2 separate regions of the Homo sapiens genome follow, and region 1 is linked to region 2. The links come from fine-mapping of genetic effects on gene expression. A gene starts in region 2. The other region holds a variant in brackets. All regions are shown on one strand. Distances are from middle to middle. Region 1 overlaps B3GAT1 (beta-1,3-glucuronyltransferase 1). Region 2 holds the start of B3GAT1 (beta-1,3-glucuronyltransferase 1).

Region 1 (15,279 bases), 28 kb before region 2:
CCCCACCTGGGCAGGAACCAGTACATTAAGTGAGCGGTGGCACCCCCTCCTGCTGGTGCCAGTGGGAGACTGCCGCCTCCTCTTGACCTGAAGCCTGGTGGCTGCTGCCCCACCCCTCACTGCAAAAGCATCTCCTTAAGTAGCAACCTCAGGGACTGGGGGCTACAGTCTGCCCCTGTCTCAGCTCAAAACCCTAAGCCTGCAGGGAAAGGTGGGATGGCTCTGGGCCTGGCTTTGTTGATGATGGCTTTCCTACAGCCCTGCTCTTGTGCCGAGGCTGTCGGGCTGTCTCTAGGGTGGGAGCAGCTAATCAGATCGCCCAGCCTTTGGCCCTCAGAAAAAGTGCTGAAACGTGCCCTTGCACTGGACGTCACAGCCCTGCGAGCATCTGCTGGACTCAGGCGTGCTCTTTGCTGGTTCCTGGGAGGCTTGGCCACATCCCTCATGGCCCCATTTTATCCCCGAAATCCTGGGTGTGTCACCAGTGTAGAGGGTGGGGAAGGGGTGTCTCACCTGAGCTGACTTTGTTCTTCCTTCACAACCTTCTGAGCCTTCTTTGGGATTCTGGAAGGAACTCGGCGTGAGAAACATGTGACTTCCCCTTTCCCTTCCCACTCGCTGCTTCCCACAGGGTGACAGGCTGGGCTGGAGAAACAGAAATCCTCACCCTGCGTCTTCCCAAGTTAGCAGGTGTCTCTGGTGTTCAGTGAGGAGGACATGTGAGTCCTGGCAGAAGCCATGGCCCATGTCTGCACATCCAGGGAGGAGGACAGAAGGCCCAGCTCACATGTGAGTCCTGGCAGAAGCCATGGCCCATGTCTGCACATCCAGGGAGGAGGACAGAAGGCCCAGCTCACATGTGAGTCCTGGCAGAAGCCATGGCCCATGTCTGCACATCCAGGGAGGAGGACAGAAGGCCCAGCTCACATGTGAGTCCTGGCAGAAGCCATGGCCCATGTCTGCACATCCAGGGAGGAGGACAGAAGGCCCAGCTCACATGTGAGTCCTGGCAGAAGCCATGGCCCATGTCTGCACATCCAGGGAGGAGGACAGAAGGCCCAGCTCACATGTGAGTCCTGGCAGAAGCCATGGCCCATGTCTGCACATCCAGGGAGGAGGACAGAAGGCCCAGCTCAGTGGCCCCCGCCCCCCACCCCCCACGCCCGAACAGCAGGGGCAGAGCAGCCCTCCTTCGAAGTGTGTCCAAGTCCGCATTTGAGCCTTGTTCTGGGGCCCAGCCCAACACCTGGCTTGGGCTCACTGTCCTGAGTTGCAGTAAAGCTATAACCTTGAATCACACCCCCTCTGGTGATAGTCTCTGGTCATGTGTGCCACTCTTGCCAGAAGGGAAGGCTGTCTGAGAGCTTGGTTTTCTTGGTCAGGTTCCCATTGGGCCCCACTTGCCGCCTGGGGGTCCAGATGGGGACCGTCCCTGGGGTGGGTGGGCCATGATCCTGGCCTCATATTCCCCTCCTGACCCCGACTTCCCTTCAAATGTCTCTGGATTGGAAGTGCCCTGGAGAGGACAGTTCAAATGCAAATTCATTCTCATGCTGGTGGGCGGGGGTAAGAATCTGCCAGGCAGTCAAGGGCGCTCCATATGAGTTAACTGCGGGGTTGAGTTTTGCTTCACAAACTACATCTGGCATCTACTGCCAAAACCAAATTATCTCCAGTAAGAGTCAGAAAGTCAAGTAGCACACACATCCCCGGCACAGCGAGAGCTCTGGGAGCCCCGTGAAGGTGGGCTGGGGGATGGTGAGCCGTGGAGCTCACTGAGGCCAGCAGGCTTGCTGCCCGTGTGTGGCTGCCCAGGGGGAGTGCAGGGGACATTCGTGGTGTGCAGCCCAGCAGCTGAGCCGGGTCAAGGGCTTATTAAATGGAGCTTATTAAAGGAAAGCTTGTGGACAGTGGCTTGGGAACAACATGGGGCAGAGTCCCTGGTTTTGCCCAAACTCACCAGTTCTTCTGGAACTGCCTCGGAACGACAAGCATGGGGCTAAGATGTGGATGAGACTCGGGCTACTTGGGTGTGGCCTGAGCCACCTGCAGGGTCTTCTGCCCCGCTTTACCTGAGTGTGTGCTTCTGCAGAGCTGTGTATGAGCTGGTTCCGTCAGAAAGTGATGGAATGGAAGGGAACCTTCCTGCAAATCCTCCTGTAAGGTGGAGAAGCCCCTTGGATCACACTTCCACGCAGACCTGAGCAGGACACACTGTGGTTTCCTAAGGTGAGGTCTTCCTACACCAGCTTCTTATTCTCACCCTTATTTTCTGCCAGTTAATTGCTCAGCTTCTCTATCAAAGTACCTCTTGGCAGAGCTTATTCTCCAGCGTTGACTAAAGATGTTTCCATTATCTTCCACACGGTATGGCCTCATCTAGGTCTCTTTGGAGAATCCCTCTTCATATCCAGCCTCTGAATGCTGGGGGTCTCTGGCCCACTCCTTGGGCTGTTTCTTTCCTCTGTCCACACTCACTGCATAGGGTCTCACCCGTGCACCTGTGGTTTGTAAACAGGTTGGACACCCGCGCCCGCCGATGCTGGGCTGCACCTGAGCTCCAGGTGTGTGGGGGCGCATTTTCTTCTGCATGTGTCTAACAGGCACCTGACACAGAGCTCCATTTCCCCACATTACCCCTCCTGCACGCAGCCCTGTATCTGGAAATGGCAGTGCTGTTCTGTGTCTCGGGCTATTTTGGACCCCTCTCTTTATCTCCCACATCCAATCCAGCAGCAGATCCTCCTGGCTCTGCCTCCTAAACTTGGCCAAAATTTGACTGCTTCTCTCTGCCCCAACCCCATGCCCCCACTCAGCCCACTGCATCTTGGCCTGGATGATTCCAGGAGCCACGTCTCCACCTGCCCTTGCCCTCTCCATTTATCCTCCGTGGAGGAGCAGGGCAGTTCTTCTTAGAGATGGATAGATTATGTTAGTCCTCCGTACTGGACCCCCTATTGCCTTCTGGTTTCACCCGGTGCCTGGGGACTCCCTTCTCCCACGCCCACCACATCCCTCACTGCTGTTGCCCCCAGCAGCCCCCGCCCCGTCAGTTGAGCCCGATGGCCTTCCTGCTGATCTGTAAGCAGGCTGAGCAACGCTTGTTCCGCCTGGTGGAGAGTTCGTTCTTCTTGGGCCCGGGGAGCTGCATGTCAGGGTGTTGCTGCTTCGCTCAAGGGTCACTTATCACGGAGGCCTCTGTGGTCACCCTACAGAGCACTGACCCTCTCCACTGCTACCTCTGTCTCCCCGACTCACCCTCATCCTCCATACAACAGATTGCATCTGAAATAATATGCATTCGTTATTGCCTGTCTCCTCTCGTCAGTGGGTCAGTTCTTTGAAAATGAGAGCCTTGTTTTCTCACTGCTGTGTGTCGGCTCCTAGAATGATGCCTGTTCATAACAGGCACCTGATACATACTTGTTGGGTAGCTAAATTAATAAATGAGAACAAAATAAGGCAGGGCTGAAGAGGATTAGGACTGTTAAAAACTGTATTTGACTTTTAATTTTGAAAGCAAATTAAATACAGTTAAATTAAAACAGACCAGATGCAGCTGCCTGGGTGCCACCCTCACCCCAGCCTCTGTTCTTAGAACTCCTAGCCCCTGGCCTCACTCCTGTGTGGTGGGGCTTGCCAGCGAGGGAGCAGGGAACAGACTGGGTTTGGAAAACAGTGGTCATCATGGACCCATTTCTGATTTATAACAAACTCATTCCCAATAAAGATGAAGGCTGCAGTCCACCAGGGTTATAATTATAAATAAATATACATGCAGCTAAAAGAGGATATTAGGTGAAAACAACTGACCTAGCATCTGCCCAAAGAAGTCCCCATTTTGTTGTTCATTATCAAAGTCCTGAAAATGAACCCTAGGTTTTTGGCTAAGAAGGTGGCCTCAGACCAGCCAAGCTGACCTTGGCACTTGGCTGGCTTCTGTGAGGCAGTAGAGTGCCCACACATAAGCTCACCACCTGTGCCCACCTCCTCCCTTCTCTCCCATGCCACCCCACTTGCTTCCAAGGGCTTGGTTTCCAAAGTGACATCCAGGGTGTAAGAGGTTGGGGAAAACGTCCTGCAAGGTGGCTCAGGGATCTGATTCCATCAGATGGTCTCATGAATACTGTGGGAGATTAAATCCATCTCAAAATAGGCAACCAATGCTATATTCTGAATGTTAGGTCTCTGGACTGAGTCCCACCCACCCACCCACTCAGGAGTGGGTTCTGAATGGCCCTCAGACCTCTCCTGGTGAGTCTTAATGGGGTGGGAGGCTGTTAGTTAAAAAATAAACACCTCTTCAGTAGGCTGGGGCCCTTTCCTTTTCCTCCACTTGGGGGGAAAATTGTGCTTCCAACTTGCAGGAGAATGAGCCGGATCACCACTAGAGAGCCCGGCTGGGCCAGGGGGTCAGAGCCCTTTCCAGTGGGCCCCAGAGGCCTGGGGAGGGCAGGAGTTTGAGGCACACTGTTCTTTCTCCAGGATGGAAAGTGGACAGCTGGACATGAGGTGGGCTAGCTCTGCATGCTCCTGACTTAGGGAGAAATAACATTTTCTTTCCCTTTTTTGTGTTTAGAATAATTTCCAAAGCAGTGTGCTCAGGCCTCCCTCCTGCTCAGTGTCCCAGCAGCCCCTGCCCCCTCTTTCCCAGCCCCTCTGCTACTCCAGAGTCCCTCCTCCTCAGACCAGGGGCAGGAGGGAGTTAGGGAATGGCCTTGGCCTCCCTCCTCTTTCCAGGCTGCAGGAGGTCCCACCTTGCCCACCACCCACCGCCTTGCCCACTGCCCACCATGGGCTCACTCCACCCTGAGGTCTGTGGCTCTGAAGAGCTGCAGGAAAAGGCGCTTTCCCTCCCCAGTCCAGTCCAGGCGAGGGGCCTAGCAGCCGAGGTGGGCGGTGGGGAGGCAGTGTGTGGACAGTGGGGCCGTGGGGTTCTTAGTCCAGGTCAGGCAGTGACCTGTGCTGGCTCTAGAGCCTACCCCTTTGCCACTGCTGGAGGAGAAGGGGTAAAGGAAGAGGGGCCGGAGGGGGGGACTCTGCTCCCGCCACAGCCTGAGGTACAGGGGGTGCCTATTAGGCCCAGGCTCCCCCCATGCAGGGCTGGGTGCCTGTTGGGATCCAAGACAGCCTTATGCTCTGTAAACGTGAACCAGAGGAGAGCCACAGAGGTATGTCTGATTTGGGGGCAGCTCTCGGGAAGAGCAGGGGCCCAGGAGAGGAGCAGAGCGCTCGTGATGCCCGTGGGCTGCTCTCTGGTCTTCAGAATTCCCTGGCTGGGTGTCCTGTGTGGTCGTGCTGAGCCCAGGGACAGGGAGCCAGGGAGGGCCATGCTCCACTTGACTGCGGGGTCTTCTTATCTCCCTCCCGCCCTGCATCACTGCAGGGCCAGTGTGGGCGCCCACTGCACCTGCTCCTGCAGCCCCGTCAGTGCGGGGAGCTCTGGGGAGGTGCGCTGGAGCACCAGCTTGGCTGGTGCTGGACACCCCACCCTGGCCATCAGGTCTCTCGGGCCCTGGTCACGCTGGATGGAGAGAACAACAGGTCTGGGATTTCTGTGCTTAAATTCTCTGTCCTTTGTTCTGGCATCAGGCTGGGCTCTCTCAGAAGCCCCCAGAATAGAAAGGAGGGTGATGGTGATTCCTTAGGAGTCGGCCTTGGAGGGACCATCAGCCGTGGGGAGAGGATGGAAGGCCAAGAACAGGGTCTGAGGAGGAGGCTCCTGTGAGGGGAGAGGAGGAATGAGTGAGGTGTCGGCTGAGGGTGGGGCCGGGGAGGGAATGGCCAGGCAGGGCCACCAGGACCTCTGCAAAGCCCAGGCCCCCAGGTCCTGTGGGGGCCTTTCTGAGGGGCAGGTGGGGAAGGTGCTTCCAGTGAGGGCAGTGAGGGCAGGAGGCAGAAGTGAGGCTCGGTACAGATGCATTCTAAGTGGCGCTGGCCAAGGTGACTGAGTGACACCCTGTGGTCCTCTGCGGGCAAACACAATACAGAAGCTATTGCTTAGCTCCAGGGCAAGAGGACAAATGTCTGTCTCAGGCCTCAACCTCTGTTTGGCATAACCTAGAGTAGGGAGTCAGGAGTACCAGCTGCTTTTAAGAGACAGGATAAGATCACAGAAAAGCCCCTGAAAATGCCTGGCTTTGCCAACCACCCAGCACAATTCACTCGTGCCAGTGTGTCACCTTGGAACATTCATTTAGCTTCTCTCAACATCATTTCTTTGCTTCTGAAGTGTAGGTGGATCCTGTGGCCTACTTCCAGAGAGGGCTTTAAAGACTTGAATAAAAATAGCCACACTGATGAGATTTAAGTGCCATGAACTGTTCTAGGTGCTCTCAGCAACCTACTTCACAGATGAAGAAACTGAGGCCCAGAAAAGTCAAGTCAGGTCAAACAGTGAAGAGCAGGGGTCCTGGGAGCTGAGGTGGGCTCTGGGTCCGTGCTGTCACTCTGCGCTACCTCTCACTATGACAGCCGTGGGCTCATTGCTGTGGAGCAGCGAGTCCGTGAGTCCTCACCATGGCCACGTGGTGAAGGAATCCACAGGGGAAGAGGCAGACTTGGGGGGACAGACGCTGGCCAGCGAGAGTCTGAATGGCAGTGCCTTGTGGGGTGCAGGCGTCACTGCCAGCAGAAAAATCAGCAAGATGTTTGGAAGGTGACACCCTCTGAAGAGTCTGGTGGCAGAAGGACCCAGCTGCGTGGGTGAAAGTTAATGCCTGGATACTTTCAGGTGGCCCAGTGGGAAGGGGACTGTGGTGACGACGCCCTCCACTCCTGCCCACATCTGCCCTGTCCTCCACAGTGAAAGCCCAAGAGGAAAAGAATGAGACAGTTGATTCGGCCCAACCTGGTGCCGCCCTGCCCAGTGTGTGGCCCACCCTCGTCATGCCCATACCTGCATCCTGAGGCTCAGATCTCCACCGAGGGGTCAGTGAAGCCCTTCTTGCCCTCATTCACCAGCACTGGCTTCTCTGTCCGTGTGTGCCACACCAGGATCTGTGTGCCCAGAGATGCAAAACATGGTGGGACAGGCCCCTGACCTCACTCTGCTGCCTCCCTGCTCCCTCCCACACTGTGTAAACATTTCTCCTGCCCCTCCTTTTCCTTCGAGAGTTTTTCAATTGTTCCATCAAGATTTTCTCAATTGTTTTTTATTTATTTTCTGTGGCTCTCGACTACCCCCTCATTTTTGCTGTTTTTACATGTGATGCCTTCGGAATACCTGCTGGAAATGGGAAGTCTAGAACTACAGAAAAGAGAAGCCCCAAGACTTCCCAAGTGTGTGTGTGTGCATACGTATGCATGTTCATGTGCATATGTGTATATGTGCATGTCTGTGCATGTTCACCTGCATATATGTGTGCATGTGTGTGCATCTGCATGTGTGTGTGCGCACATGTGTGCACGCGTAGGCATGTGTGTGTGCATGAGTGCTCAGCAGGGAGGTGCTGGAGCACGGCTGTTCTGTGGGAGGTTATAACTCCCCAGTGGCCATTGCTCTCCCTTTCCCTGCCTGTCCGCAGTGTCGCTGCCTTACAGGTGATACACTGCCTTCCTGGGAGGGGGTTCCAGAAAGCCCAGGCTATTTTGAGGCCTCTGTTTCCTTCTCCCGATCTGTAGGGAGGGTCTGGATGTACTTGAGACATTGCATCACAGCTGTCAGTTCTGCGGAGGGTCTCACCTTGGTGCAGTTGGCTGCCTTGGGCTCCAGGTCGTTGAGGGTGACAAGTTCTCGAAGGAGGCTGCTTTCCTGGTAGCCTCCCTTCACACCTCGCAGCTTGAAGTAGGCCTGGCTTCGCTGCAGAATGAGCCGCAGGTTGACGGCAAATCCAGCCATGTCTATTGCAAATGGCCGGTGGGGGTCAAACACCGTCTTCCAGCCGACCACCTTCCCTGCCCCGTTCACCCGTGGGGCCTCGTACCGCAGGCCACCCACGAAGGCGACGGGCCACACGGACACCCTCCTGGTGCTGCGCATCTACAAGGGGGGGGTCCAGAGTCAGGGCGCCGGCACTGCAGATGAGGACGGCCGCGCGTGCCCAAGGGAGGCGACATCCTTCAGCCACCTCTATCTATGCCCATGGCCAGCCGCGGCCACCTAGGGGGTGTCCAGTACAGCCCTGCCCCCAGGACCCATCCCATGGGTTGGGCACCTGAGAAGAACCTGCCCTGGGCTGCCGGGGACACCTGACCTCTCAGACGGCCTGGTCTTCCCCTTCTCAGCGTGGCCCTGCTGCTGTTTTCTCCCTTGTCTAAAACCTTTCAGTCTCCCCGCTCTAGAGTGTGAAGTGACTCCCCTTGTCCCCGAGACTAACACAGCCCATATACTCAGGCGAGCTCCAACTGTTCCACCTAAGAGGTTTCTGGTAGTCACGCAGAATGACCTACTCACAAACCCATTCAGGAGATACCTCTAGGGCCAGGAATATGGTTTAGGGGCTCCAGAGCCACCTGTCTTCCCCCTAACTTGTGGGGGATGCTTTAGCCCGCAGTTCCATCCCTTTCCCTGGCTCTCTGCTGCCTGCCCCGCTCCCAGCCCGGCTTCCCGGGTTCCCCCTGCGCGCGCCTCCGCACCCACACCCCCTTCTCGGGAAGCCCCTCCACTCCCCGCAGCCGGAGGTCCCGCTGCTCACTGTCGGGCCCTCCCTCACCTCTTCGAAGAGCTCCAGGCTGTAGGTGTTGTCGTCGTCGGCGAAGTAGACCACGCCAGGCTGGCTGGAGTTGCGCGGGAAGGTCTCGCGCAGCCAGCGCAGGGCCAGGTTGCGCTGCATGGTGCCCCGCGGGATGCGTGGGTCGCGGGCGTCTCCGCGCAGCTTGTAGTTGCGGGGCGTCTCCACGTGCAGGTGCGTGTAGTTGAGGCCGGTGTCGCGCAGCAGGCGCGCGGTCAGCGGCGTCCGGCGCGGCGCATCCTCCACCACCAGCCAGTGGAGGTTGGGCACGTGCAGCAGCGTGTTGGCCATGCGCGTCAGCTCGGCCTTCTGCACCGGGCGGCTGTAGGTGGGCGTCACCACGTGGATGGTGGGCAGCGTGTCGGACCATGGCGGGGGCCGCGTGTACACGTACTCGGTGCGCACCACCTCCACGATGTCGCGGTCAGACGTGCAGTACTCCCTGGGGTCGGCGCCGGGCGGCGTTTCGCGTCGGGGGTCACTGCCCTCATCTGCGGAGTCGGGAGACCGGCGATGTGGGAGGAGAGCGCCGGCTACGGCCCTGGATTCAGAGCGGGACGCCACCCACCCTGCCAGGGCACCCTCCTCCTCCCCCGCTGCAGGGGCTGCTCAGACCCCCGCCTTGCCTGACCTGTTAGCTCTAAGGTTGAAATCTGCAGCCCTGGAATCCTCTCTGGGAGGGTCCTAGCTCTGATGACACAGACATAACCTCTTCCTTCCCACCTTTGCAGCCCTCTAGCTATTTGAGCGCAGTTGCCCATATTCCAAGATTGCATCCTCAGTTCCTGAATGTGCTGACTTTCCTATGAAAAGGCGTCCCGACCCTCCCCTCCCTAGCCCTACTCATCTGGAGGGAGCTGGCCACACTGCCCTGTGCAGGGCTGGGCTAGCAGAGCACGTGGCACTGCCCCGCTGTGGTGTGGACGCCACAAAGCCCCAGGGCCGCAGCACTGCGGCAGCAACCAGGGCCCACTGTGGGCCCGCAGGAGCCTGAGGCAGCTCCCGGAGTTCTCAAGCCCTCCAGTCAAGCGGGGCCTCTTCCCTCCTGGCCTTACGTAAGGCATTCTCTGAATCTCGGTGCAGAACTTCCTATTTCACCGCATTTTATTCTCGTGGGTTTTGCCCATAGTTGCCAAGGTATATGTAGATCTAGCAGTCCTAGCAAGAGGAGAAATCAGGGCCATTGGGATTCTTGTTTTCCATGCGTCCCTTCTCTCCAAATTCTGTCCTTCCATCGGAAGGGCTCATGCACCAATGACGGTGTGGCCCTCCTGTCCTAGCTTACCGTCGGGTGGTAAAGGTAAGAAATCCCGGTGCCTGGGCTGAGACCCTGCCCACTTCTGCCGTTACGAACCCTGTGCCCTTGAGCAAGCTGCTTAGCTTCTGGCGCCTCAATTTCAGCAACTGTAAAATGGAGCTAATAATAGCATCGAACTTATCGAGTTATTATGTGGATTAATGAGTCCACAAGGGCTGAGAGCACCGCCAGGCACAGTTTCCTCTCTTGCGGAAGGGCAGTGGCCAACTCTGCTTCCTTCTGGCTTCAGGCAATCGGTGGGGACAGAACCAGCAAGTCACACCAAAGGGGAGGACCCCGGGCATCAGCTCTTCTGCTGCCTCCCTCCGGCCACTGTCATCGGCAGCATGTGGGGTGTGTGGCACGCTAGCGTGGAGCTCATCTGAACGGACCCAGGAGGCCTGCTCGTGGCTCTTCAGGAGTTCTCATGGGCAAATGGCACCAGGCACACAGCAATTGCTGAGGGTCGGGGGAGGAAACCAGCACACACGCAGTCGCTCAGAGGGGGCTGCTTAGAGGAGTCTGGGGTCAAACTGTGAGAAGAGCAACGTGGAAGAAAGCGGGATGGGTGTCTAGGGTTCTGACCTAGACAGAGGACTTAATTCATCCTATGGGCAGTCAAGTTTTGGAAACTGAGGCCTTGAGAGGAAGTTTGGAGCCACTTTGTCCACCTCTCTGCCACCCAAATCATCCCAAGGCCGCAGAGGACCTGTGCCCTTGGACAGTCCCCATACATTAGGGCACGGCTACTGCGTGTGCTCCTGGGCTTCGCCCTTCCCATTGGCTTCAGGGCGTCTGCAATTTTGGGTCCTAAAGGCCTCCTGGTGACCCTAACTTCACTCAGCTGCAGCTTTCATTCGCTTGCTCTTGGCATGCTCTGGGGAGACAGAATGCCAAGTCCCCAGCCTCAGGCAGCACCATCAGTGCTTAGCAAACAGCCTGACGTCTCCAGCGCTGGAGCTCTGCCAAGAACGCAATCGACACGATATCATGTCGCTTTATATATAGTAGTTTTAACCCCTCTGGAGTGATGTATTTGCAAGATAACAATGATTCTGAACTGACAAGCACAGAGAAGAGGCCCTAGGGTCGGGAGGAGAGGATGATGTCAGGAAGACAGGCGCCAAGTGCCAGCCACGGGCAGTGGGCTGCCGCAATGTTGAGCTTGGCCCTTCCTCATGGAAGCTTCAGGAACAGCTATGGGTTTGCAGGACTTGGTATTTGACTGTGAGGAGCAGCACGACTTCAGGCTGTGATTTTTGGACACTGCCTGCATCTTGGGGTTACAGGCACTCACCACCTCTCTCTGCATGGGCTTGGTGCTGCCTTCTTGTTTATCACACTGCCAGGTGGTATCATGCACGCTGCAAACGAACAGCTGCCTGACCCCACGTGAGCCTGTGCATGTAAGTGGGGGAGGGGGCAGAAAAGCACGAGACAAAGTGCTGAAGAGCTGGGGCAGCCAGCTGTGGGGTGCGTGGCAGGTTTGGGAGTGAGAGGGAAAGGCGACCCAGGACCCAGAGCCAGGGGAAAGGAGTTCTACCCCTAGTTCTTCCACTAGTTCTTCACGGGACTTTTCCTCTCTCCAGCCCTATTTCCACCAGGTAGCACTAGATCAGGGTTTCCTACACAGGAAAAGAAGAGAGGCAAACAATATACTCTCTGTGAAAGGGTTTAAAACACACTGCAGGCCAGAAATCCTATTCCTCCCCCACCATCCACTTCAGAATGGTCGCTTTCCTTGCATGTCATGAAATGGCATGTGAAGTTGTACATGCGTGTCTTTCTGTGTATGTGTGTGTATTAATGATGTTTGTTTTTTAAGTTTTTCTGTATTTTAAGATGCGTCGACATCTTGGGGGACTTGCAGATATGGGGAGGGACTGCCCCTCCCGGGACTAGCTAATTCCTAGTGACAGTACACACCTTGCCTGCAAACACACTTTTCATATGCAAACTACCTGATCTAGAGCTCATACCCACTACCACCTTTATGGAGCTCTCCCACCCAAGCCAATCTTCCGCTGCCCTAAACCACCCCAGGGCGATACCAGACAATTAGAAACCACACCCATATCCTAAACCCACTGACTTTCTTCAGACTATGCAATTCTGGGCCAGCTCAGCTGCCGACAGTGCTTCGCCCTTCCCTTCCTATGAAAACCACTTTCCTTCCTACCAAAACCACA[C/G]TAAAGACTCCCACTCCCTCCACTTCCCACCTCCCCCTCCCTTCACTTCCCACCTCCGACCTCAGCACTTCCCCAGGGGGCAGGGCGTGCCCCCTCCTCTTGGGTGCTGAGAGTAACAAGCTCTTCTTTCAAGGCAACTGTCTTGGTGTCTGCCAACCTACCATCCCAGGCATCTTAAAACTGTGTGGGTAGCTTCCATTAGCTTCCCATTCCCAAAGGGGTGCAAGACTCATGAAGGGGCCTAGATGATCCCGTGGTTCCTCCTAGCTGCTAAGTGAGTGCAAGCAAGAACCCTGCGTGTCAGCTGTGGTCACTGTCACTACCAAGGCCCAGCTGGGCAGGCAGGGCATGCGTGCGTGCTCACCCTTATGTACCGCGAGCAGGGGTGCGAGGGTGCTCTGGTGCCAGACAGTGATGAGCAGAGTCCAGGGCAGCACGATGAGGACGATCGCTAGGATGTCCCGTCTCTTCGGCATCTCCAAGGCTGGCTGCACCCACGGCTCCTCATTACCTGAGTGGCGGTAAGTTCAGGAGAGGGGCGGCCACGGGCGGCGGCAGCACAGGGGAGAAAAGAACAGGCATGGGCCGGGCCGGCCAGGCATGGAGAGGACAGAGCAGCTGAATGTTGGCTAGCAGGTCTTACCAGCACTCACAACCCACCCATTGCGGAAGCAGGTTTGGAGAGTCCGGCCCAACTGGAGTCTGAGAAGGGGTCGCTGTCCAGGGGCAGGGGTCAGGAACCCTGGGGGGTGGACACCTGCAAGAGAGAGCAGAAGCGGATAGCCAGAGACCCAGGTATAGGAATGGATGCCAGCAAGGCTGGGCCCTGCTCTGGGACACACAGCATCGGGGGTTCCACAATGGAGCCTCAACTGTCCATCACCTGAGGACCTCTTTTGTCTGCCTGTTAGAGTGGAATGGGCTCTGTCCTTCCCACAGGCACAGGGCCATGGCTCTGCTCCATTTATGAAAGTCAGTAGGGTGCAGGGGTCAGAAGCACAGACTGCAGAGACACCAGGTTTAAATCCCAACTGTGCCACCCACAGGCTGTAAGACCTTTGCCAAGTCATTTCCGTTCTCCATGCCACAGTTTTCCCATCTATAAAATGGGGCACTGTGGATCCCTACCTCATAAGGTCATTCTCAGAATTAAACAGGGTAACTCCCGTGCAGCCCTAAAATGCCAGCTACTTATCAAAGCCTGGATAAAGGGGTGAGAGGTTTTATTTTCTCTCTCTCTTTTTTCTTTTTTTTAACCATATATGGACCACGAATTATTATATTAAAAATAATTTCAACATTTTAGATTTGGGGGCACATGTGCAGGTTTGTTATGGGTCATATTGCATGTGATGCTGAGATCTGGAGTATGATGAATCCCGCTGCCCAGGTATGAGCATAGTACCCAACAGGGCGTTTTTCAGCCGTTCTTCCTTTGAGAGTCCTCAGTGTGTATTCTTCTCATGTTTACAGTCATGAGTACCCAGTGTTTAGCTCTCACTCATAAGTGAGAATGCATCGTGTTTGGTTTTCTGTTCCTGTGTCAATTTGCTCAGGATAATGGCCTCCAGCTGCATCCAGGCTGCTGCAAAGGCCATGATTTTGTCCTTTTTTATGGCTGTGTAGTATTCCTTGCTGTATATGCACCATGTTTTCTTTACCCAGTTCACCACTGATGGGCACCTAGATTGATTCCATGCCTTTGCTATTGGGAATAGTGCTGCGATGAACATACAGGTGCAGGTGTTTTTTTTGTGAAACACTTTATTTTCCTTTGGATACATACCCAGTAATGGGACTGCTGGCTAGAATGGCAGCTCTGTTTTAAGTTCTTGAGAGATCTCCAAATTGCTTTCCATAGTGGCTGAACTAATTTACATTCCCACCAACAGAGTATACGTGTTGCCTTTTCTCTGCAGCCTCATCAGCATCTAATATTTTTTGGCTTTTTAGTAATAGCCATTCTGACTGGTGTGAGATAGTATCTCACTGTGGTTTCAATTTGCATTTTGGTGACAGTCTTTTGAGGACAAAGAAGAGATGTTTCTGGGATGGTCCCTGGGGGGAAGTACGAGAGTGCCTTCCTCTTCCGTGTCAATAGGACATCCTTGTGGAGCACCGCTCTGTGCAGGACAGAGCACCAGGTGCTGGGCTGGGCAGCAGCAAGAAGAGGGGTCCCCGCAGGGGCTGCCACATTGAGGGGAGACAGTCCTCCAAAATGAGAACAGCAGGGGGCCCAAGTGAGGAGAATGAGCCACTGGGATTCCTCAGTCCTGCAGAGGGTCCACTGGTAGCATCTCTGGGAACCGTTCTCTCACATGGCAAGGACACTGGGCGAAGAGACCTCCTGACCGCCTTGGAAACTGTCACATCCTCTTCTCCTCCCTTTTCACTTCTGTGCTGAGCACCATGCATGATGCAGCAGGGACCCGTGGGGGTGGTGGGGAGGGCAGGCAGCCTCGGGCAGCCCAGCCAGCCTCACTGTGCCCACCCGTCCCAGTGCCCAGTGTTGGATACGGACAGTACCTCACCTGGGGGCCATGCTGCCTGCTCCTGCCCCAGCTCACGTGTGCTCACCATTTCAGGCAGAGTCGAGTGCTATGGCCGAGGAGGGTTTTTAGCCCCTGAGTTTCCAAAATAGCGTGTTTTCCTCTCCTCACCGGGTCCTCTCTCCAAATAGTTCTGACGCCTGTGGAAGACCAGGATTTGTCTTCCATTAAGGAGCACTGTGGTTTCCCGGGACGGCCGGCATCCCCTCCATTAAGGAGCACTGTGGTTTCCCAGGACGGCCGGCATCCCCTGCCCACACCCCGCCATCAGAGGCCCACTCCATCCAGAGAGTCTCCCCCACCCATTCCCCGGGGAGTGGAAGACCCACTGGGGTTCAACGTCACAGGCACGTAGTTCCCCTAGTGGACATTCTAGGCCGTGTGTGTCTGTGTCCGCCCGTAAACTCCTCTTTGCTGGCCCAGTGAGGGACAGAGCCTAGAACCCCACACGGGATGCCTGCTGGGTCTTGTGGTCTGAGATGCAAGTGACTTCATGCCACATCCCCCAGATTTAGCCTGTCCCTCCACACCCAGGCCACTGCTGGGGCTGCATGGGGCTGCGTGTCAAGACA
Region 2 (15,279 bases):
CAGGCCAGGTACACTCAGCCCAGGGGCTTCACACTCAGGGCTGGGCACCACAGGGTGCCTGGGCAGCCCTGGATGCAGGAAGGGAGCCCCAGAGGCCAGACCAGATGCCAGGTAGAATGGGGTGCCTCCTTCTTGATGCTCCCATGACACTGTGACATAGCTTCCCTCTGGGCAGAAGTATTTGCTGGGTGGCCCCTCTGCTCAGACATCTCCTGAGTGGGAAGGGCAAGTGGGGAGAATTGCCATTTATTGAGCTTTTGCTCCACAGCCTGACATCAAATAACCTGTCAACCAGATGACTGGATAAAGAAAATAAAGAAAATGTGGAATACACATGCAATGGAATATTATTCAGCCTTAAAAAGGGAGAACATTTTAACACATGCCCTGACATGGACGAATCTTGAGGACACTATGCTAAGTGAAATAAGCCAGTCTTAAAAGGACAAATATCACAGGATTCAATTTCTATGAGGTATCCAGAGTAGTAAAATTCATAGAGACAGAAACTAGGATGGTGGCTTGTGGGGGCTGGGATGTTGTGGAGAATGGGAGTCATTTAACGGGTACAGAGTTTCTTTCTTTATATATATATATATATATATATATATATATATATATATATATATATTTATTATACGTTAAGTTCTAGGGTACATGTGCACAATGTGCAGGTTTGTTACATATGTATACATGTGCCATGTTGGTGTGCTGCACCCATTAACTCATCATTTAGCATTAGCAATATCTCCTAATGCTATCCCTCCCCTCTCCCGCTATCCCACGACAGGCCCCGGTGTGTGATGTTCCCCTTCCTGTGTCCAAGTGTTCTCATTGTTCAATTCCCACCTATGAGTGAGAACATGCGGTGTTTGGTTTTTTGTCCTTGCGACAGTTTGCTGAGAATGATGGTTTCCAGAATGGGTACAGAGTTTCCAATGGCCGAGATGAGACAGATCTGGAGATCTGTTTCACAACAATGTAAATATACTCAGCACTGCTGAACTGTGCACTTGAAAATGGCTAAGATGGTAAGTTTTATGTTATGTGTTTTTTAAATAACAATGAAAACGAGTCTGTCATTCATCCAGAACATCCGTTTAGACACAGTCAAGGACAGCACACTCCTCGGAGCCTGCACCCTGGGCTTCAGTGAGCATTCACGGCTGGGTTGGGTGTCTGTGTGTGATCTCAAGCATGCACCTTCCTGGGAATCACGGGGTGACAGGCACCAGGTATGCCTGCGGGAGGCCCCCCTCCAAGGCTCCAGGTACGCCACTCGGAAGAGTGTGCACGCCCCACTGACAGCCTGCAACCGCCTCGCTGTCCTCAGGCCTGGGGAGCCGCAGAGACACAGTGCTGGAGCACTTGTTCTGAGAGAGAGATTTATGTGTGGGAGAAGAAGCTAATATCGACAGGCGATGAGTTAGGAGAGTAATACTTCAGCTACCACGCAGAAACTCTCTGACCGTGAGGAAAGCAGCTCGCCCGGAGGCTGTACTTCAGCCCAGGCAGGCTGGCAGAGCTGGGCCGGGCCTGTGTCGGTCAGCTGCAGTGTGGGTGCAACTGGCCGGTCCCTTGGCCTCTCTGGGCTCAGTGTCCTCCCCGTGCCACGAGCGGCCGTCTCTCCCACTCTGTGGTCTGTGGATGAGGGAAGAGGAGGGAAGAAGAAGGGCTGGGGCAGGCAAGCAGGGCTGGGGGGGTGACGATATTGTTGATATGCACCTACGGCCTGCCAGCAACTCCACGGGGGTGGCATTTGCCACAGCCCTGCCTCAGAGGGACCCAGCACCGGCACTCCTTGGGGGTCAGGACTTATCTTCAAGGGTGTCAGAGCAGTGGTGACCTCCTTAGGCTTCGGAAGACGCCCCCAAGGGGACCCCCCATCAGCTACGGGGACCCAGAGGGCTTCAGGTCCGGGCTAGGTAGGCACCGGGCAGCCCCAAACCCAGGTCTGAAGCCACGGAGGGTCCACTGATGGTCACCCGCCTGGTGAGGTCCTGTGGTCAGGGTGCGTAGACACACTCTGGCAGGCTAGCAATTCACGGGTTTCATTAGTTTGTCTGTATTTTTAATTTGCCGCCTGTGGCCTGAAGGAGCTGACCTTCCCCAGGGCTCTGTCAGGGATAGTTGAGGTTGGTTTTCCTGGGTCCAGCCGTCTGAGGGAGAAGAGAGGAGGTGAGGGGCCCTGGGAGTCTCAGCGTTGCGCCCCGACCCCGGGGGTGGCAGCCCCCAGCCCCACACATCTGCCTGCCAGTAGTACCAACAATCTGCCCGGGAGGGCACTGGGGCATGCAGCCTCTGCCTTGTGTGAAATTGCTCTGTGGCCCCTAGACAGGAGCAGGGCTGCTCTGGGTGTCTGTCCCCTCATCTGTGAAAAGAAGGGAGTAGCCCAGGGTTGCACAATCCAACTTCTGGGAGAAGGCTGGCAGCCAGGTAGCCTGGGGTGTCCAGCACCAGCCTGGCTACCAATGGCCAGCTCCTGCCCCTCAGGCCAGCCCTCACCTTCCACCCCTGGTGGCTTGGTGGGCAGGGTCCCTCCCTCTGGCCTCCGGCTTGGGTCGCTCTGTGGAAGTGATTTTTCCAGGTGAGGAAACGCTCATGCAGCCCTGTCCCTCCTGTCTTAGACGAGGAAACTGAGGCCCCACCAGTGTCTGTGGCACAGTGAGTTGCAGACGCAGCTGGGACCAGCGCCCGGGGGGCTCGTGGCAGCACAGTTGGCCTCTGAGACCTCCAGGCTCTGCTCCCTCCACTAAGCCCACAGCAGCCTCTGGGCTCTCGCCCTCCAGACCAGGGAGGGGTGAGCCCAGGCAGGGGCCTCTCACATCCCTTCCTCCATCCCTGCTCGACATGGTGCTGGCTGGTGGCAGCTAACCATGCCTCCTTTGCTGCTCTTATTCTGAAAGTGTGGGGGCTTAGCAGATGCTTTTTAGTGACAAAACAGAATTTCAGTGGCACTCACCTCCAAAAAGCATCAGCCCCTCTATCTGGCTGCGTCTGCACAAAGCAAGGTTGCTTTCCTCATCTCATTCTAGCTCCCTGGGCTTCAGTGAGCACTCAGTCAGGAATAATCCCATCCTAGGGGAGGAGGTGGAGGCTCAGGAAGGGTCACAGAGGTAGCCAGGACTTGTGTTGATTGGGTGGGTGGGGGGGCGGCCTGGCAGAGTGGGCTTTTCAATAAGCCTTTAAGTGAATTGTTAAATAAATGAATAATAAAAATGGCTTTCTATTTTCAAATAAAAAATAAAAAAGCTCTTGCTGTTGCATGCTCTGAGTGATTAGCATGATTAACTGTAATGACTCATTTCCTCCTCAGAAACATCCTATTATTACCCTCATTTTAAAAGTGAGAAGTCTGAGGCACAGAGAGGTTAAGCAACGTCCTGAGGCCACACAGCTACTAAGTGGCAGAACTAGGACCTGAATCCAGCCAGTAGGACCTGGCACTTAGCCACCCTGCCAAAACACCTGTGCAGGCTCCGGTCCACAACACTCTGCCCACTAGAACTTTCCGTGCCCAAAACACCTGTGCAGGCTCAGGTCCACAACACTCTGCCCACTAGAACTTTCCGTGCCCAAAACACCTGTGCAGGCTCAGGTCCACAACACTCTGCCCACTAGAACTTTCCGTGCTGCCGGGAACGTTCTGTATCTGTACCGCCCAAGATGGCAGCCTCTAGCCACATGTGGCTGTTGCCCACTTGAAATGTGGCTGGTGTGACTGAGGAGCTGCTCAGGGTGGGGACGGATGCAGCCCCCCATGCCCAGTGTGGGGCTCTAACAGTTTCTGAACAATGGACAAATGAGTAGCCCAGGGTTCAAAGAGAGACTCATGGCCTCAGAGGCCAGATTGCTCACCTGCCACAGACAGAGGAAGCAAGATGGGCAGAGGGGAAGGAGAGGACCCCAGCCCACATAGCCAGCCAGAGAGGACGGGCAGAGCCAGGCCTCCAACTACAGTGCCATTGGCACTCCCCACGCCGTGCCGTCATGTCTCCACTCCCCCATCCCTCTAGGTCTTCTTCCTGTGAGCAGAGAGCTGGCTCACATTTCCCACGTATGAGAAGAGAGAGCTCCTGCCATGGCTCAGAAGACTGAGCCGTGGAATCCACAGCCCCCTGGGCAAGGTTAGTCCTCAAATCCAGTCAACTCTTGATCCAGACTCATACTCTCCACTTTTGCGCTTATCAGAGGTAAAGCCTTAATCCCTGCCAGGCACTTGGCGCGGAGGCTGCCTCCTGCCCTGCTGTCAGCTGGTGTGTGCGCAGGGAGCGCAGGCTCATTTTAATATTGGCTGGAGCTAAACCTCATTAGAAAAGTAAATTTGCTGTAGCTGCAAAAAAAAAAAAAGCAACCCACATAACCCTTCCAAAGCTAAACAGAAAACACTAGATTTGGACTTTTGGATTATTTGATGTTTCACGTTCCCAGCACCTGGTGCAGAGCCTCCAACACCGTAAGTGCTTGGTCAGTGTTGGTGCAAGTGAACTGAATTTTGGGGGCTCTCTGACCACCCTGTCACCTTTCAGCATGGATAAGAAGGGCTCACAGATCTGGAATTTTGGTGTCAAGATTTTTTTTTTTAGACGACCATTTGCTGATAAATTGGAAGGATTACATTTAACAATAATTAGACACGAAAGTATTATTTTGTGTTTGGCAAGGACGAACTCTGAGCCAAGGCGGGCTCTGGGTTCTTTGGGTTGGGATAAGGAAGGGTGGGTCCAGCCCAGAGTCTGGAGGTGTGAGGACTCAAGCGGGTGAGGAGGGAGGTGGGACAGCCTGCACCGATTCCAGTGGGGTGAGGAGGGAGGTGGGACAGCCTGCACCTATTCTAGTGGGGTGAAGAGGGAGGTGGGACAGCCTGCACCGATTCCAGTGGGGTGAGGAGGGAGGTGGGACAGCCTGCACCGATTCCAGTGGGGTGAGGAGGGAGGTGGGACAGCCTGCACCGATTCCAGTGGGGTGAGGAGGGAGGTGGGACAGCCTCCACCGATTCCAGTGGGGTGAGGAGGGAGGTGGGACAGCCTGCACCGACTCCAGTGGGGTGAGGAGGGAGGTGGGACAGCCTGCACCGATTCCAGTGGGGTGAGGAGGGAGGTGGGACAGCCTGCACCGATTCCAGTGGGGTGAGGAGGGAGGTGGGATAGCCTGCACCTATTCCAGTGGGGTGAGGAGGGAGGTGGGACAGCCTGCACCTATTCCAGTGGGGTGAGGAGGGAGGTGGGACAGCCTGCACCGATTCCAGTGGGGTGAGGAGGGAGGTGGGATAGCCTGCACCTATTCCAGTGGGGTGAGGAGGGAGGTGGGACAGCCTGCACCGATTCCAGTGGGGTGAGGAGGGAGGTGGGACAGCCTGCACCTATTCCAGTGGGGTGAGGAGGGAGGTGGGACAGCCTGCACCGACTCCAGTGGGGTGAGGAGGGAGGTGGGACAGCCTGCACCTATTCCAGTGGGGTGAGGAGGGAGGTGGGACAGCCTGCACCGATTCCAGTGGGGTGAGGAGGGAGGTGGGATAGCCTCCACCTATTCCAGTGGGGTGAGGAGGGAGGTGGGACAGCCTGCACCGATTCCAGTGGGATTGGCTCCAGGGCTGGCCTGACGCTGCTACTCCAAATTCTAGAGCCATCCTCATCCTGGAAGCAAGGGGGTGAGGGTGTATAAAATAAATAGATTAAATTAAAATTCATCTAGTATTTCTTCTAAAAACTGGTGAGATGACAGTTTCCCAATTTATAGACTGCCAGGAAGCCGGGGCTTAGAGAGCTCTGTTTTTTTCAAAGTCTACTCGGCTAGCCACAGATGGAGATGAGACTGGACCTCAGACAGCCTGGCCAAGGGCCTGTCCCCACTGCACTTCTTCCATGTCCCCTGGCTAGTCTTCAGTAGGGTCCCCAAAGGTCTTTTTGCCTGGGGGCCTGGGGAGGGGGTGCATGACTTCTCTTCTTCTCCTGAGTGCCAGGTTTCCCCAGACCCCACATCCTTCCCCACTGCCCTGCATTCCAGGACCAGGAGGGCTGGGGCAGGGCCAGAAGATGGAGAGGAGCCCTCAGCATTGTGAGATGCTCAGGGGTGAAGGGTGTCCCTGAAAGTCCCTGCAAGCTCTTGATGTGCTTGACCTCATAGCCTGGCCTCCCTCTGCCTTTGGGCTTCTGTCTAAAAGACCCTCACATTCCTGAGAGCCACAGGAAAGCACCTTCCTCAGTAGAATGTCCAACTGCTCTAGTGAGGGGCCTCCTGCAGGGGTGGACAATTGCTGAGGTCGATGTAGGGGAACAGGGGGAGGCCCCCAGCCTGCCCCAACTCACCACTCAGTCAGGGAGGCCCTGACTTCTGCCTGTGTGCCTCCCTCTGCTGTCCGCCAGTGCGCCTCCGTGCCTTTGTCTCTTGTCTCACTGCCTCTTTCTCTGCCTCAGTCAGGCTCTCTCTCGGATTCCTCCTCCTCCTGAGCCCGTTCCTCTCCTCCTCTCCATTCTCATCAGAGAGGAACACTCATCCCTCTCTTCCAGAAACAATGGAGCACCATGCTCCTGTCCGCTCAGCCTTTCGGTTGGTGCATCCTCTTCCCCATCTCACACTCCCAGCTCCTGGCCGGCCTCATCACCCTGTGCTCCACACCTAGGAAAAGTATATCTGACTTGGTCCCCTTATCCCCGAGAAACCACTAAGAGAACCTTCAGGTCTCCCCAGAAGCCGAAGCTGAGGAACTGGGCTTGCCCCAGGGCATCCTCCTGTGAAGCTCCTTGGTCTCCGCCACGGGCTCCAATCCTGTTGCTGGAGCTTATCTCCTCAGTGATTTACCTGCCCCCTGCTTCTGGTGGAACAGTGAGTAACTGCCCAACCAGAAACCTACACACACATATTCAACACAGCGCCTGCAAGCTTCCAGCTCACCTGGACCTGGAGTGATCCCCAAGCATCCTGGGGTCAGGCACAGAAACAGGAACAGCGAGCTCCTGGCTCCAGTGCTGAATGGGGCACAGATGCATTAACTCTCCCAGTCCCATTAACCTTAGCAAGTATTTCTGCTTCCATGAAAAGGGGAAGAGGGAAAATGTCTCTAAGCTCTGGAACCTTTGGCAGTGCTGGGCATGGACTGGGCAGAGTGAGAAGTCTGTCTGAAGACCCTGGGAAAGGGTCTTCACCCCATGGGAAGAAAGGGAAGGCTTGATGTTTGGTCCAGTAAGGCCATTAATGGTCACCAACTGAGCAGACTCTGGGAGGAAATGTCTCAGTCTCTGCAGTGGCTACCAGCAGAGGTAGGGCGACATAAGCACAGAAGACAAATCTTAGAAAACCCTAGAACAACAGTCCTGTGCAGCCACATGCCCCACAGCCCTAGTAACTTAGGGAGTGATGTGCCTCCCATTTCCACACAAACACATCCAGGCATTGCACAGTGCTAGGCCCTACGACATCCGTACCCCAACATTTTCAACAGTGCGTGCTACACAGCCCAAGCTCTAGGCCCCATTGGGCACCCCACCTATGCAGGTGCCCATGCACTGGGCTAGCAACTGTCAGTAAAGGTCCCCTTCCTGTATGTCCAGAGTCCTTCAGCTCCAGCTTCTACAAGAATCCATGCAGCTAGGCCTGGCTGGGGGAGGAAGGGGACAGGGAAGTTGGCCAAGGCTCCCATGTGTGTGCATGTGGGGGTGGTTCTTGACCTTAGCTGCTTGGTACGGGGCTGTCACCTCCTTACCCTGGCACTGTCGGACCTGGTGGCTTCCTTCTCTATTTCCTGCCTCAACTCTCAGCCTCCTTTTTCTGGAAGTTGTGTGCTCTGACTTTGGAGGGATTGGGACCTCAGACCTGAGCCCAGGTGCAGATGGGAGGGTGGTGAACTGGTCGCGCCTCCTTCCTCCTTGCTACACCGAAGGTCCCAAGGGCCCTTTGCCACCCTTGCTACCCCTGGGTCCCTCAGCGCGCCCCGCAGAGCTCGGGCCCCCTCAAGAGAGTTAACTTGGCAGTGCCCAGGAGCCAGAGAGCGATCCAGAGAGCGCTGTTGGGCAGCAGGGGTGGGGAGGTGGGGGACGACTGACCCCTGACTCCTCATCCGGCCACCAGAAACCACCTGCTGAGGGGGCCGGGAACTGACGACTGAGAGCCCGGGCCGATTGTTAGAAGCTGCTGAGAACCAGCTCTTCCCCTAATCCCGGTCGACGAGGGCAGGCTGTGCCGGGTTTTGTTTCGCAGCCCCTCGGCAGCAGCGCCTCCCAGCCCGAGCTCGGTTCTCGGCCCCCTTTCCAGCTGCCCCCAGCGCGCGCAGCGCACACACACACACACACACACACACACACACACACCCCAGCGCGCGCCCGGGAGGACATGGCGTGGGCACCGATGGGGACGCAGAAAGGGGCTCTGTGCGCGGCGGGGCGCCCGCGGGGGCGCGGGGAGCACTGACCTGCGGCGACGAGTCCGGAGCGTCTCCGGTGCGGTCCATCGCGGGCAACGGCCCCTACGCCCCGGCCCCGGCGCCCCTAGACCGCTGCCCTGGGCCGCGTGCGGCTCCCTCCCCGGGGACTGTCGGGCTCCGGGCCCCCGGGGGCCACTTCATAGCCGCGGGGTCCGCGCGCCCGCCCGCCCCGCCCGGCCCCGCCGCCCCGGCCCGGCTCGTTCTGGGCTCAGCGAGGCGGCGGCCGAAGGCTGGGAGCGCGCGGGAGGGAGGGCGCGGGCAGGGAGGCGGGGGGCGGGGGGCGGGGAGGGGGAGCGGGGAGGGGGAGCGGGGAGCGGGCGCGGGGGCGAGAGGGGCGAGGGGGGCGCGCGGCCGGAGCCGAGCCGACCGGGCCGGCGCAGAGTCCCCGAGGTGGCGGCGGATGCGCCGGTGCCGCCGCGGCTCTGCCGGCGCCTCCCGCCCCGCCCCCACCCGCTCTCCGCCCCCGCCCCGCCCCCGCCCCGAGCCCGCGCCAGCGCCGGCGGGACCCGAGCTGCTAATGGTCGGTACCAACCTCGCCAGCCTAGGCGGGGGCGCGAGGAGGGAGGCCGGCGAGGGGACCCCCCCCCGGGATTGGTATCACCTCCCCACCGCCCCCCACCCTCCCCCGGCACCGTCCCCCGCGGAGGCGGCTCCCGCTTCAGGCGGCGGAGCAGGGGTGGCGGGCAGGGGCCGAGCGCACCCCCAGATCTCGGCTCTCGAGAGTTAAAGCTCGGCCCCCGCCTGCACCCCCATTCCACCCCGCCTCCATCCTGGCTGCTCCTGGCGCCCAGCTTGGCAGCCTCTCTCAAAGGGTGATTGTTTCCGGCCGGGCTGCTGCAGGAGGGCGGGGGGCGGCGCTCTGGGACCGAGAGGCCGAGCTGGGAAGCCGGTGGGGGATGCGGCTCCTTCCTTGGCTCCAGGCACCCCGGATGGGAGGTGGCCGGTGGGGGCGGACGGTGCCGTGCCGGGGTACGGGGTCTGCTGCCCCGTGGAAGGGCACCTCGAGCCGCCGCGCGTCAGCCTCACCCCAGCCTCCCCTTCCGGGCCGGTGCACCCGGCGTTCCGGAGAGAGGCCCGGGAGGCCTGCGTGGGCGGACGGGCGCGGGGAGGCCGGGGGCAGCGGGATCTCCAGGAGTTTCCCGGGCCTCTGCCGCGGTGTGTTGGTCGGCGGGGGACGGAGGCCAGTGAGTGGGCGCGCACTTGGACGTATGTGGGTGCACTGGTAGGGTGCCTCTGTGGAGCTGTATATTCCAGATACTCCTTCAGCTTGTCGGAGACTTTGAAGCCATCCTTGCACTCGTTTTAGAGGTTGGCATCTCCCGGTGCTCTTGGACACCTGTATTCGGGCCACACCCGCTGTGTCCTCTTCACAGCCCCAGGAGAAGGCCACCTCCCATGGCGGGGTTCGCGGCGGGACCAGGGACTGTCGGTACTTTCTCTAGGGTCTCCCTCCTTCCCGGGAAACCAGTTCCAGCCCCACTGCTAGGCACTGCTTAACCAGAGCTGTGCCCCCGTGCTATGGGCTGGGGCTGAGGACCACGGGCCTCTTTTCCATCAGCTTTCCTGCCCTGTTAGGACCAAGCCGGGCCCTGCTCTTCCCACTGAGGATGTGCAGGTGGGGAGGGGGCAGAGACTCCAGAATCAGCCCCTTTGGTCAAGATTTTGAGGGGAGGAAGGCACCTCACCGTCCGTATCATGCCACAGACATGTGAAAGTGTCCTTAGTGACTATCTCTAGGGATAACTGCTCCTCCTTGTCGTGCGCTCTTTCATTGTTGTGCTTAACAGCCCCCTTTGCCGGCAAGAAACTTCCTCTGAATCTAACCTCAGTACCTCCTGCTGCGGTACAGGAGCATTTCCCCCTTCTCTTAATGAGTGGAATCCCAGCCAGCCTTGCTCCGCCTTCTTCTGCCCCTACTACAACCCTCTCTTTTAGACTCTGCTAAGAGACCTTTCCTAAGTCGGTGTTCTCTGGTATTTTCCTAGTCTCCATACTCTGCTTCTCCTTAGACTCCACACCAGCTGAAGGGAGGGGAAGGGCAGGTGCAGAAGCAGGATGGGCGGGGGTACCAGAGAGCACCAAGGAGGGGCCAGGCCGTCCAGGAGGGCACATTGCCTCCCTCCTCTGCTAAGCCAGCCAGCCGCAGTCACACAATCACCAAATGGGAGGACAGAAATGACCGTGAAGACTGTCTCGTTCCAGACCCTCATTTTACCAACAGGGAAACACACCCATGAGGGGTGATCTCAAGAGAGCTCAGGGACATGGCGACGAGGAGGCCTGGGTTTCAGGCCGATTCTGAAGGCACTAGCAAAAGACTTCCCCTCAGGGCTGGTTTCAGTAATGAAACAGAGGGTTGGACTAAGTGGGCTGTGGTCCGACTTGTCCTGCTGGGCTGTGGCTCGGAGATGCTGTCTGCAGGGGTTCTCGGCTTTACCTCAGCATTCTGGCAGGAACAATTGTGATAATAAAGCCGCTTTCAAGGGACCTGTCTTGCATCTTAGTTCCAGGCTCTGTTTACAGAATTTTTAGTATTAATTTTTAGAGCCAATTTAAAACAATAATAGGAGATTAAAATTAGCATGATAAGGCTCAGTGAAGAGACAACAGCCTGCCATTCGTTTTGGTGGGAAGTTTTGGCAACATCCCAAGTGTATGGACACACACAAATGTACTGACATCTACGCAGGCACAAAACATGCTCATAGAGGCAGCTACACATGCAGATTCACCCACATGAACACACACACACACTCTGAAATACATCATGTGCACATGTAAACGCTTGCACACGGATGTACCTGAAGCACCTGCACCCACACAGACACACGTGTACACACACCATCCCCCGGGTCAGCCACACTCCCACCCCTGTCTTCCTGCTTGGCCTCTGCAGGACTGTGGAAATCCTTCCCTCCCATGTCTGGACTTGGTGCATCCTCACAGCTTGACCCTTGCTCCAAACATCTGGAGCACCTCTAAGGTCTCCCTGAATGATTGATCTTCCCCTCCCCCTGCCTTCCCTGCCAGTAGTGAGCCCCTCTTCTCAGAGGCCCCCAAAGCCTAGCACCAGCATGTTTAGTATGCAAAGCCCGGGTTTGTCCTCTGGGACAAACCGTTATGTGTTTATTGTGTAGTTAAGCAGGACGGGAGCCCTGCCCCCGCTCTGATCCTGGCCCACTTCCCATAATCTGAATCCCAGAAGAGTCCTGTAAAACCGTCATCTGCAATGCAAAACCTGCAAAACATCTGGGATGGTCTGTAGGTTTTCTCCAAATCACCTGTGCCCTAATTTAATATGAATAACAATTAGTTTACTCTTATCAGTTAATTGTTCCCCTCGTGGGTTCTGTCTGCCCTGGCCTCTCTTTCAGCAGGAGTTTTGGTCTGCTCCAGACTCCTAATGATACTGCCTTTTCAGCCGTGCCGTCCTTCTTAGCTACCACCCAAGAGAGGCAACGCAGCTGCGCTGCTTGCCGCCCTGGCCTGTGGGGCCCAGGCCCTCACCCCACCCGTCTTAGCCAGTCTGATTGTTGGGGGCCATCCAATCTCCCCTTGCCTTCACCAGGAATCTATAGCAGTGATTTTGCTGATGTGAGTGGAAAGGTCCCAGTGGGATTCTTCAGTGAGGAATCCCACCCCACAAGGTGCCCGTCCTCTCCCGTCATTGCCCTGGCAAGGGTGACAGCACATGCACATGCATGGGCACACCCAGATGCTGCCAGAGAGCAGGGGGAGTGAGAGGAGGAAGAGCTGCCCTCTGCCTCGGCAGGCAGGGTGAGCTCCCCAGGGACCCAGCCATGCTATCAGGCGTGTCTGAACTGTTCCCACAGTGGCTCCTGGACGGATGTGTGTGGATGTGCTGTTTTGGGTGGTGGAGTTCATGGCCCAGATACAGAAAGAGGAGGAGACCTTTTAACTCTTCCCTTTCATTAGGTTTCTGGTCTGAGCTTTGGATCTTGAACACCCTTGTTTGTCCATAAAAAATTGAAAATGGTCATGTGGTCAACAGGTTTCCCTCTGCCCTCCTCTCTTCTCAGAAGCCAGGCCGGCATCTTTCCTGAGCTGGTGCAAAAAGGCTGACTCCTGCTTCTCTCCAGTCTCTGCCTCCAGGGAAAGGGTGCAGTTACATGGCTTTAGAACACTTCAGTCATGTCATTTTGTTTTGCCTTCTTTCCTCTGTGGCTGAGGGAGGGATGAGAGGTGATAGGAGCAGAGCCCTCAGACTTAGGGGAGCATCTCTGAGGCTAACCTGGGACCGTTCTTTGTCCTCTTGCAGAAGTGAAAATAACCCAGATTGCCTTTTGACCTCCCCACTATCCCCTAACTACTCTGCAGAGCCCACACCTCCAAAGTCTCACTGAAGCCTTTCCCAACCTGAGCTCTGTGGCTTGTGCTGTCTCCTATAGCCCTCCCGACCCTCAGGCACCTCTGGCAGTGAACTGCTCTTCCCCTCAGTCCCATAGCACTTTATCCGGACACATCTGGAGGCTCTTACCCATCTGTGCATGCTTTCCTGTGTTCAGCTAATATTTACTGAGCTCCAGTCATATGCCAGGCACTGTGCTGGGCACCAGAGACATGCAGTAAACAACAGCAATTAGGAGTGTTAACTTCAATTAGGCCATTTATATGTATGCACCAGGTTAGGTTCCAAGTCTTCATGCACGTTAGCTAATTTCATATGTAAGGTGTTATTTACAAGGTACTGTTTGTGACAAGTTTCGATTATAGTTTCCATTTATAGGTCAGGAATCTGGGGCGTAGTATTTAGGTAATTTAATTAAGGTCACATGCCTAGTAAGTGACATAGCCAGCATTTGAGGCAGGCAGCCTAGTTCCAGGACTCAGGCTCATCGTCAGAGCACAACTCAGGGATTATATGCTAGTGGTCCATAGATGGGCAAATGCACAGAACAAACAGAGGTGGAGGAGATACAGGAAGGGAAGAAATAGGGTCAAGAGCTGGAGAGAGTCCTGGGAGGGTAGGATCAGGGAGAGGCTCTTTGAAGAGGCCATGTTTGAGCCAAAACCCGGGGGAATATTGGCCCAGCAAGGAGGACAGCGATAGGCGACCTGAGGGGTTTGCGGGAGGCTTGGTGTGCTTGAGGAACACGTGCAGCAGGTGAGGCTGGAGAGTGGAGAGAGAGGAGAGAGCCATGGGGAGCGGAAAGGACACTCTCTGCTTGGAGTTTGAGGATTCATGTGCGTGAGTGACCTCCTGCACTAGCGTCTTCCAGAGAGTGGCTGTTCAATAAATATGATGGATGGAGTCGTCTAATTTCCTGCCCAAACTCCCCTCCGTGGCTTGGGTGATGGGCAGACATCCTAGACCTTTGGGTATTAGTAGAGCATCTGCAGAAAGGACTCCTTACCCTTTCCTTTTGGGATTTGGAAGAAAGAAAAAAGGTGCTAGGAGTCCTGCCACATGGATGTGCTGATTCCATTTATTCATTCATCAAAATTCTGAGCAGCTCCGATGGCCAGGAATTTTGATAGGTGTGGGAAAGACAGAAATGAAGGGCCAGCTCCTGCTTATGGTCCCATGGTTTTCTCCAGCCTGAGGTTTCAGTGTTTCGCTTCTAGTGTCTGCCCTTCCCCATGTGCCTACCACGGATTCTTCTGTCTACTGTCTGCCCTTCCCCATGTGCCTACCACGGATTTTTCTGCAGGGGAGAAGAGCCGGGCAGAAGGCTGAGCTGTTGAGAAGCCACACTGAGACCTGGGCAGGGGCTGCTGCAAATGTCAAAAACTGGGAGAGGCAGAGGGGTCTCCTGTGGGCAGCAGCCTTCAGAACCTTTTTGTGATCACCCAAGGGGTTGGGGTACAGCGACTTTTTGGATGGAAGAGGAAGAGAAGACCATAACACTTGTTGGTGAATTCAGACTTACAACAGTGGTTTTTGTTCAGGCATATTCTGAAAGAAAGGCTGCATACTGAAAGGTTTGAGAAGCGTAATTCAACATATTGGAAGATCTCGCTCCTCCATTTCAAGATGACTCAGGCCGGTGACTTTCTTTCTGTTCCCCTGGAGCCAACAGGGTGGCAAAGTTGGGAAGAAAGACACTTGGAATTACTGGACATTGATGTCCTTTGCCCAACCTGCATGTGGTCTGAACTATGTGTTATGCCAGATAGGAAAAGAGATAACTCACATCAAATACTTCCTGGCAGATTCCTGGCTGATTGTGGGAAGCTGGCGGGACTGAAGAACGTTTCCCTGTTGGCTTTATGAGACAAGAAAGAGTCTGGCAGGATTTCTGGGAAGTGAGAGAGAGGAAATATGGACCCGTGAATAGAAAGCATGTTGAGTGTTAGGGACAAAGCTCCTCCCTCCTTAGATATTGAGAAAACATGATGGAGCTAGGCCACTGGAAACCCTGGGTACTGCTCTCATCAAAACATGAAACGGTTGGTCCTTCACTGAGATCCCAAAGATCGAAGTCCTGGGCCTACTGCCCAGACAATTAGCTCCCAAGCCTCTGTGGCTGCACCCATGCCTGGAGCTGGAAAAACTGCTTTTTATCTGATTACGACTTCCTGGCTGAAAACACTCAGGGGCTCTGTAGGGAACTGGTGATCTGTCCTCCCATAGCCTAGTGATAGATTAAGGGTCTAGGGAGTTAGGGAGAGCTTTAATAGGGCCCCCTGGGTTTGAGCACACATCTGACAGTTGTAATCCTCCAGCTATGTTTTCTGCAAACGGATGGTCATTTTGGGCTTTCTGGTCTCTAATCCTTCATTCAGCAAAGCAAACACCCTAAATCCTCAATAATGTAGGTTTTACAGTCTCATATATACATATCCATGTTTCAGCACCGAGGCCAGCTCCACTCATGCGCGGCATATGTTCCCGCATC

Evidence for each region.
Region 1: its variant is fine-mapped to the expression of B3GAT1 in blood mononuclear cells (TOPMed, PIP above 0.99).

What each region holds. Positions count from the first base shown.
Region 1 is chr11:134,375,026-134,390,304 of GRCh38, forward strand. It overlaps B3GAT1 (beta-1,3-glucuronyltransferase 1), which reads right to left. Exons shown (of 6, transcript NM_054025.3): 2 at 12,523-12,915; 3 at 8,655-9,163; 4 at 7,685-7,981; 5 at 6,899-6,999; 6 at 3,483-5,722. The coding sequence starts at 12,634. The coding sequence ends at 6,913. GLB1L2 (galactosidase beta 1 like 2) reads left to right here. Exons shown (of 19, transcript NM_001370461.1): 19 at 1-1,299. The coding sequence ends at 33. It overlaps LOC124902798 (a long non-coding RNA gene), which reads left to right and starts at 1,771. Exons shown (of 2, transcript XR_007062961.1): 1 at 1,771-2,229; 2 at 3,039-3,316. RefSeq lists an enhancer at 1,436-2,335. The variant C/G (reference allele first, on the strand shown) is at 12,159.
Region 2 is chr11:134,403,400-134,418,678 of GRCh38, forward strand. B3GAT1 (beta-1,3-glucuronyltransferase 1) reads right to left here and starts at 8,843. Exons shown (of 6, transcript NM_054025.3): 1 at 8,408-8,843. RefSeq lists enhancers at 1,010-1,511, 7,432-7,991.